2 separate regions of the Homo sapiens genome follow, and region 1 is linked to region 2. Evidence: fine-mapped expression QTL. A gene starts in region 2. The other region holds a variant in brackets. All regions are shown on one strand. Distances are between the middles of the regions.

Region 1 (4,513 bases), 29 kb before region 2:
TGATCTTCTGTCCATTTCATCTTCTTTTTTTTTGTTGTTCTTTTTTTTTTTTTTTTTTTTGAGACGGAGTCTCGCTCTGTCACCCAGGCTGGAGTGCAGCGGCGCAATCTCGGCTCACTGCAAGCTCCATCTCCCGGGTTCATGCCATTCTCCTGCCTCAGCCTCCTGAGTAGCTGAGACTACAGGCACCTGCCACCATGCCCACCCAATCTTTTTTATTTTTAGTAGAGACGGGGTTTCACCGTGTTAGCCAGGATGGTCTCGATCTCCTGACCTCGTGATCCACCCACCTCAGCCTCCCAAAGTGCTGGGATTACAGGCATGAGCCACCGCGCCTGGTCCATTTCATCTTCTTTTTTTTTTTTATTTTATTTTATTTTTTTTTTTGAGACGGAGTCTCGCTGTCGCCCAGGCTGGAGTGCAGTGGCGCAATCTCGGCTCACTGCAGGCTCCGCCCCCTGGGGTTCACGCCATTCTCCTGCCTCAGCCTCCCGAGTAGCTGGGACTACAGGCGCCCGCCACCTCGCCCGGCTAATTTTTTGTATTTTTAGTAGAGACGGGGTTTCACCGTGTTAGCCAGGATGGTCTCGATCTCCTGACCTCGTGATCCGCCCGCCTCGGCCTCCCAAAGTGCTGGGATTACAGGCGTGAGCCACCGCGCCCGGCCGTCCATTTCATCTTCTTGCAGACGATGCCCTGAGCCTCCTGACCTGGGACCAGGACTGGTGCCCCCCTGCCCAGCGGGGAGCTCCCTCTGACACACCCAGGGTCCCCTGCCCCTGAGTGCACATGACTCCCAGGGGCCATGTCTCCTTCCTTATGAAGCTGCCTCTCTAATGACGAACGGGAAAACCTGATCCACTTGGCGACACTGAGTTCCACCCCACACTGGGCATTTCTTCTTATGAGTGACCACCGAGGCCATAGACATCCCTAACCTGTGGCAACAGCTTGGCTTCTGAGCCTGCTTCAAAGTGGCAGAGATCCCCGTGCTGGACAGCATGCTGGCGCCCTTCCCTGCTGAGCTGCAGCCACCCAGGCCCTTTCCAGCCACACAATTTCAGAGCCAGGCCTGCTGAAGGCTCTGCCCTCCTCCCAGCCCCCTCCCTGCTCTGTGGCCCTGCCACATGCTCCTGCTGGGGGGCTCCAGCCTGCTCCCCTGCCCTGACTTTGCCCACCCCCACGGGCTCTGCTGTATTCTCCTGGTGGCACTCATCTCTCCCTTTGTGTGCCCCGAACCCTGACTAGAAACTGGGCCCAGTGGGGTGGGCATGGTGTCAGTCTTAGCCACACCTCCAGGACAGAGCCCCATCTGTGAGCTTGTGACAGCAGGGAGCCCCCTGAGCCCCAGCCTCACCTGGTCCCCCACTTTGTGGGCGATGACCGCGGCTCCCTCCTTCAGTTCTGCGTCATTGAGCGGGTGGATTCGAAGTGCCACCTGCAGGCAGTCACCAGGGCGGCTGCTCTGGGATCTGCTCAGTCTCTGTGAAGAGGTGAAGGCAGCAGCTCAGCCCCGTGCCCCTCAGGGTGGGCTCTGACTTCACTCCCACGGGGCTGCCCGTGCCCCCAACAAGACATGGCCTCCCTCACTGAGGAGATGGGGAGGTTGAGGCACACAGCAGGGAGCGCCTGCCCAAGGCCTTGCCTCCCAGTCCTGCCACCTCCAGAAGAGATGCTGAGCTCCTTCATGGGAAACTTCCCCAAGGGGAAACTGGGGGCCTTGCCATCCCCACTCCCTATTCTGAGGGCCAGATCCCGGCCTCAAACCCACCCAGCTG[G/C]ATAGTAACTGTGGCCCCAGGACGCTTGTTTCCCCCTCTATAAAAGGGACACATTTTTTGGTAGAAACAGCAGCTGTGGCTGAGGGACAGTCATGACTGGCATCTCTTTTTACCCAGCTACAGCCCTGGGGCAAGTCCCCAGCTCAGCTCACCGCTGTCCAGTTGGCGGAGGCTCTGAGTCCCCCAGCAGATGGCCTGGATTGGGCCCAGGGAGGGGGCTGGGGAGCCCAGAGCCCGCACACCCAGGTGCCAGCAGCATGGGGATTAGGGGTGGAGAGGGTGTCTGGAGGCTCAAGGCGGGGGTGCGGAGGCAGTGGGGAAGAGCGGGGCAGCTAGCTCCCAGCGAGGGAAAGTTGGGGAGTAGACCGGGCTGATAACAGAGCAGAGGGGTCGCCGGGGTTGCAGGCTTGGGAGGCGGCGTCGGGCACTCGCAGACTGGGGGGGCGGGAACACGAGGGAGGGCGCTCACCATTAGTGGCTGGTCTTTGGGCTCCATCTCTCAACGCCGGGCTGCCCCGGGCCGGGGAGGGACCTGCAGCCTGGCAGGAGGGTATGGGCAGCGGGATGCGCTCCCTATCACAGCAGAGATGAGACCTGCCTGCGCTCAGCCCCGCTCTGCTCTGCCTAGGTGACATCAGCTGGGCCTTGGGGAGCCGGGCTGGCACCACTCATGTGGTTGGGGCCTCAAGGAGCAGGGTGGCCCTCTCGATCACCTTGGCACACAGGGACAGCGCCAGACGCTACAGCAGCCTCTATCTCCACCCTCACTATGGCAACCCCCGGTTTCCATGTGCCTCACCCGGTGCACATGAGCCAGCCTGACACCCACCAGGACACAGGTGGAGGGGCTGCCCCTCTTCTTTGCAGGGTGGGTCCCTCTACCACCTTGAGCCCAGGAGAGGCGCTGCCCACCTCAGGGCCCCTCACACAGAAACCAGGATGGCCCTGGAGCTTTTCCCTTGAAGCAGACAAATGGCAGCAGCTGAAACTTCACACAGCAACTTGAGCAACTTCGACTGCAACTGCCGTTTCCAACGGCGACTATGTTTCTTTTTTTTTTTCTTGTCACCCAGGCCGGAGTGCAGTGGTACAATCTTGGCTCACTGCAACCTCTGCTTCCTGGGTTCAAGCAATTCTCCTGCCTCAGCCTCCCGAGTAGCTGGGATTACAGGCACCTGCCACAATTTTGTGGCTCATTTTTGTATTTTTAGTAGAGATGGGGTTTCACCATGTTGGCCAGGCTGGTCTCGAACTCCTGACCTCAGGTGATCTGCCCGCCTTGGCCTCCCAAAGTGCTGGGATTACAGGCGTGAGCCACCCGCGCCCGGCCCGCGACCACGTCTCCTCCCCTTTCCCAGTAAGCGCTTGATTGGCTCTCAGGTGTATTCAACACCTAAAGGCTGTGCTCCTTTTCCACTGCAAGCCCGGGGAAAGGCACCGCACCGTGAACCTGCTCCCCAAGGTCACCTGACCCGTCCAGGCTGAGCTAACCAGAGTGCAGGACGACACTGCCCAGAGCCAGGGTCGGTGCCAAGCACAGAAACCCGCTCCTGCACTGACAGAGATCACGCCAAAGCCAGGCCGGGCGTGGCACACGCCTGTAATCCCAGCTACTCGGGAGGCTGAGGCAGAATTGCTTGAACCCGGGAGGTGGAGGTTGCAGTGAGCCGAGATCACGCCATTGCACTCCAGCCTGGGCAACAGAGCAAGACCTTGTCTTGACAGAAAAAAAAAAAAAAAAAAAAAGTAAAGAAATCACATTAAAATCGGATCCAAGCTGTTCAAGCCTGGCCAAGTCCAACTTCATGATGCCAACCACGGAGCTGAAAGGGCCCGGGGGTCCATTCCCGCCAGAGTGGGCGACTCAAGCCCTCCCAAGAGCCACCATGCCTTTCCCATAAGCCGACTGCCTGGCAGCTCAGCTGTGCAAGGCCAGGGCATGTTTTTGGCCACATCCATCTCTTTCTTGGCATCCGGGTCAACACTGTGCAGCAGGAAACCCCAGCCAGGTGGATTCGGCTACCCCTCCAACAACCACATCCCTGTCCTCTAGGAGGATGAGGCTCCAGCGTCTGACCACGGCACTTGCCGGGAACACGTTTACAAGTCCCCGCGTTCTTGCCTGCCTCAGCCTCCTGAAACACAACCAAGGCCATGCCTGCAGCAGGGGTCCCAAACACCCCCCCCCCCCGATGTCCTGAGCCCGCCAGCCGTGGGGACCCTGATACCCAGGAAGTCCCTCCACAGCAGGCCGGCTCTGGGAGATCCATGTCTACCGTAGCAAAGTTAAAACCAACGCAAGGGCTTCAGAAATCCTTTACGAATTATATGAAACAATGACAACTAGTACATTTAAAACAGTGGAAAGTTAATTTTTTTTAGAATATCTGTTAAAAATCTGTCATATGGTAGAACTGTGTGCCTTTCTTCTTTCGATGAAATCAGAAAAACTTTCTCGGCACACTAGAATTTAAGCAGCAAGAGTATAAACAAGAATTACTAATAAAATGTGCACTGGAGGGACACAGGATGAACGGCAGGACTGCGACAATTCTAGAACTGTAGAATCGCAGATGAGAGAAATGTAGGGCTCCCAAAAAAGCAAACGCACCAAGGCGCCCTCCTCACACCTGGGAGACCCAGTGTGACCTGAGGCTCTAGGCCACTCCTCCAGGGTGGCAGGAGCCCGGGTCCTCTGCCCTGTGAATTACAGCCCCTCCCAGTCTCCAAACGTT
Region 2 (4,000 bases):
GATGGTGACCTCGTGATCCACCCGTCTCGGCCTCCCAAAGTGCTGGGATTACAGGCGTGAGCCACCCAGCCCGGCCCTCTGATAGCCTTTTAAAAATACGTTTAAATCATAAATTGGCAACTCCATGTTATTCCCGAAATTGTCCTGGTGTATCGCTGGCTACATCAGCAAGGGTATTTTTATTTTTCTCACTCTAGTATCAACTTAGCCAATCTGCAGAGGCTGATGTGTTCCCAACTTAAAGGCTTAAGAGAGCTAAAAAACAAAAGAAAAACAAATGAGACCAGCTCTCATCAGAAGTAGCTTCAGGAAAAAATCTCTGAGACAGGAAGCAAAAATATGCCTGTAAATCCAATCAAGGTTGAGATGAAGGCAAAGCTGGCTGTTATCGGCAATATTAAAACCTGGAAAAATAACTCTCTTTATAGATTTAGCGCAAGAGATAAAGAAAAATCAAACTGGAATTTCACAGGGTGCCTGTCCCACTAAGGAAGTCTCTGGAGATGGACAATTCTGAGGGGCAGGAGGACAAAATCACCGGCTCTGCCACAAGCTGTTCCTCCGATCCAGACCTTGGGAGGTCTGACTGGTCAGCTCTGGGGACACGTAGACCCGCAAACCTGCCACCGGGTCTTCGGTTTTTGCCGTACCCCCAGCTGCTACACTCACAGCACACCCAGCCATAACGGAGTACCCCATGTGCCCTCTCCCACCCTCTCAGATTTCTGGTTGTCATGCAAATGCCTGGCTCCCGAAGTGAGCTCCACCCTGTCCCCTTTTTCAGGAAAGAAAAGGGGAGGCGCTGGGCTCTCAGAACACTTCCAGGGCACTCGGGAACCCCTCCCTCGGTGGCTTCTCAGGAACACACGGACACCCTCGCTGGAACTTCTGCACGAACCGGTGGCACAGCCCGACGATATCTCCCACCTCGGGAACCCCAGCCACGCTCCCGCGCCGCTCGCCAGCCCCGCCCCGGGCGCCCTCACCTTCCTCGCTCACGTCGTCCACGAAGTCCTCGGGGTCGCTGAAGGAGGGCTCGTCCGCGTCGCCGTTCTCCAGCGCCCGGGGTTCGGCCTCGGCCGCTCTGCCCTCGTTTCCTCCCGCGTCCTCGGACACCGCCTGGGCCCGGCTGTCGGAGCGCTCGTCCCGAGCCTGCTCTCCTGGGGCCTCGCCCTGTGCCGGGACAGGGGGCTCAGCATGCGACCCGGGCAGCTCCTCGGCGGCCGGCGGCGAGGGCGACTCGGACGGGCCGGAGGCCGCCTCTGCCTCGGCCGCCGGCTCGGTCCTCACCTCGGACTCCGGCCCGGCCTCCGCGATCCCCACCTCCTCACTGGAGGCCTCGGTCCCCGCGGCCTCCGGAGCGCCGGGCCCCGCGGGCCGCAGCAGCCCCTCGGCTGGCGGCGGCTCGGCGGCCGGCTGCTGCTGGCCGGGCTCGGCGCGCTCCTCGGCCGCCTCGGGCACCGCCACGTTCTCCGCGTCCTGCATGGGCCCAACGCTGCCTACTCGCAGGGCTCCGCGGCCGCCGCGCTTCCGACTCTCCCAGGCCGCACCGCGCGCCGCGACGGCTACAGCCCAGCCATGTGCGTGCGACGGGGAGGCCGCACCAAGGCCGCGGGGCGGGGGGCGCACCCACGCCCTGGGGCCTCACGAACGACCCTGAGAGGACTCGCATCCACAAGACCGCGCCCGAAAATCATCAAACTGATATATTTGTGACAAGAAAGTGCTTAATTCCATTCAGCAAGGTTGTTTCTGTGCATCAGTAAACTCATGGGAGCATTGACCACCCCATGTGTGGCAGCAGATGGTTCCGTCCAACATGGCGTCCTCCCCCTTTCCTTTCCCGTCGGACGCTGCGGGGCGGGACTGAACTATTTGTGGAGCTGAAGGCGGGGACAAGAAATGATTTTAGTACCCGGAATGCTAGGAAAATGTCCTCTAACTCAACAGTTAATACCCTGGAAGAGTGGAGACTCAACAGGCGATTGCTCAGGGCGTCTGAGCCTTTCGCTAGGGAAACCGTTTAGTTTACGTTACTAAAGTCCCCCCTGTCCGTGTCTGTCACTTGGACTCGCCTACTGACTGAGCAAAAGGACAGACTACTTCAAAATAGAAAAGGAATTCGGGGCGAGCCAGAGAGGGCCCACACGACTAGAAGGACGACTGCCTGGCGCGATACAAAAATGTATGGAAGTTTCTTTAATCGCTTACCCCCAGTCCTTCCCTAGCGGCCGTCACTGCCTGTTTCCCCCCATTCGGGCTTTCACAGTGGTTCAGTCCATCCGAGGCCGCCGCCTTCAGCGCGGGACAGCGCGGGTCACGTGGGGGCGGGGGCGGGTCCTCGCCGCGTGGAGCTCGAGGCTGACTCCGGAGGGACCGGAGCGGTTCGCTCTGCGCGGGTGCTCACGGGACGGGCATTGGGTGCATGTGGCTTCTATCTTGTTTTTTGCCGGAGTGGAGGACAACCACTGGTTGGGGGATGTCTTAATCATCCTAGAAAACAACCCAGTGGATCACGCCTGTTATCCCAGCACTTTGGGAGGCTGAGGTGGGAAGATCGCTTGAGCTTAGGAGTTGGAGACCAGCCTTGCCAACATAGCACCACCACCCCCCGCACGCCAGCCCTCATCTCTACGAAAATTAAATAAATAAATAAAACAGGTGGTACCCAGAGGCTGGGGTGGAGAGTGGGGAGTGTTTATCGGGGACGGACCTTCAATTTGGGAGGATGAGAACGTTTTGGAGATGACGGTGGTGATGGTACAACATGGTGAATGTACTTGATGCCACTGAACTGTATACTAAACTTCATATTAAAATGGCTAGGCCCTGCGCGGTGGCTCACACCTCTCTTCCCAGTACTTTGGGAGGCCAAGACAGGAGGATCACTTGAGCCCAAGAGTTCAAGACCAGTCAGGGCAACATAGCGAGACCCTGTCTTCGAAAAAATAAAATAAAATGCCAAAAAGGTAAATTTTATGTATATTTCATCCTATAGTTTTTTTGTTTTGTTTGTTTTCAGAGATAGGGTCTCGCTCTGTTGCCCAGGCTAGAGTGCGGTGGCATAATCACAGCGCCGCTGCAATCGGGACCTTCCAGCCTCAAGAGAATCCTCCCACCTCAGCCTCCCAAAGTGCCAGGATTACAAGCGTGAACCACCGCGCAGGGCCTAGCCATTTTAATATGCAATTTAGTGTACAGTTCAGTGACATTAAGTACATTGCCAAGTACTTGGGACTGAAGGTATGTGCCACCGTGCCCAGCTAATTTCTTTATTTGTAGATAGCATCTCACTGTGTTGCCCAGGCTGGTCTCAAACTCCTGGCCTCAAGCAGTCTTCCTCCCTCAGCTTCCCAAAGTGCCGGGACTATAGGCATGAGCCACCACACCCATCCCATCCTAACGGTGTTTAAAAGAGCGAAAAAGAAGCAGAGTCTTCCCATGCCTAGTACCAGGTTTGACTACTCCTCATCATGCTGTCAGTGGTGTATCTTTGGGCAGGTCACTTAATGCCTCCACCTCAGTTTCCGCATCTGTACAATAAGGGATGACAATTTTTTTTTTTTTTATTTAGACGGAGTGTTGCTCTGTCGCCTAGGCTGGAGTGCAGTGGCACGATCTCGGCTCACTGCAAGCTCCACCTCCCGGGTTCACGCCATTCTCTTGCCTCAGCCTCCCAAGTAGCTGGGAATACAGGTGCCCGCCACCACGCCTGGCTGATTTTTTTTGTATTTTTTTAGTAGAGACGAGGTTTCACCGTATTAGCCAGGATGGTCTCGATCTCCTGACCTTGTGATCCGCCTGCCTCGGCCTCCCAAAGTGCTGGGATTACAGGTGTGAGCCAATACGCCTGGGAGTATGTTTTTTCTACATATGCATGCTTACAATAGGGCACAGTAAGAGATTAACAGCAATAACTAATAGAACAATTATAACAATATATTGTCATAAAAGTTATGTGGATGTGGTGTCTGGTGGTGTGTCTGTGTCTCTCTCTGTC

Which allele goes with the higher level. Alleles are on the strand shown, and positions count from the first base shown. SD is a standard deviation of normalised expression in the study named.
With allele C in place of G in region 1, the expression in lymphoblastoid cells after a statin of the gene that starts at base 1,580 in region 2 is lower (small effect, 0.38 SD a copy in CAP).

Evidence for each region. PIP is the estimated chance that this variant, and not a neighbour inherited with it, causes the effect. A credible set is the group of variants that fine-mapping cannot tell apart.
Region 1: its variant is the best candidate, but not a certain one, in a credible set for the expression of EIF3B in lymphoblastoid cells after a statin (CAP, PIP 0.79).

What each region holds. Positions count from the first base shown.
Region 1 is chr7:2,381,517-2,386,029 of GRCh38, reverse strand. It overlaps the pseudogene KIF19BP. Among named protein-coding and RNA genes, the nearest start is that of CHST12, 20 kb to the left of the region's middle. The variant G/C (reference allele first, on the strand shown) is at 1,779.
Region 2 is chr7:2,352,407-2,356,406 of GRCh38, reverse strand. It overlaps EIF3B (eukaryotic translation initiation factor 3 subunit B), which reads right to left and starts at 1,580. Exons shown (of 19, transcript NM_001037283.2): 1 at 987-1,580. The coding sequence starts at 1,485. It also overlaps a transcript of SNX8 not described here. RefSeq lists silencers at 1,124-1,233, 1,284-1,373, 1,554-1,693 and enhancers at 2,494-2,563, 2,234-2,789.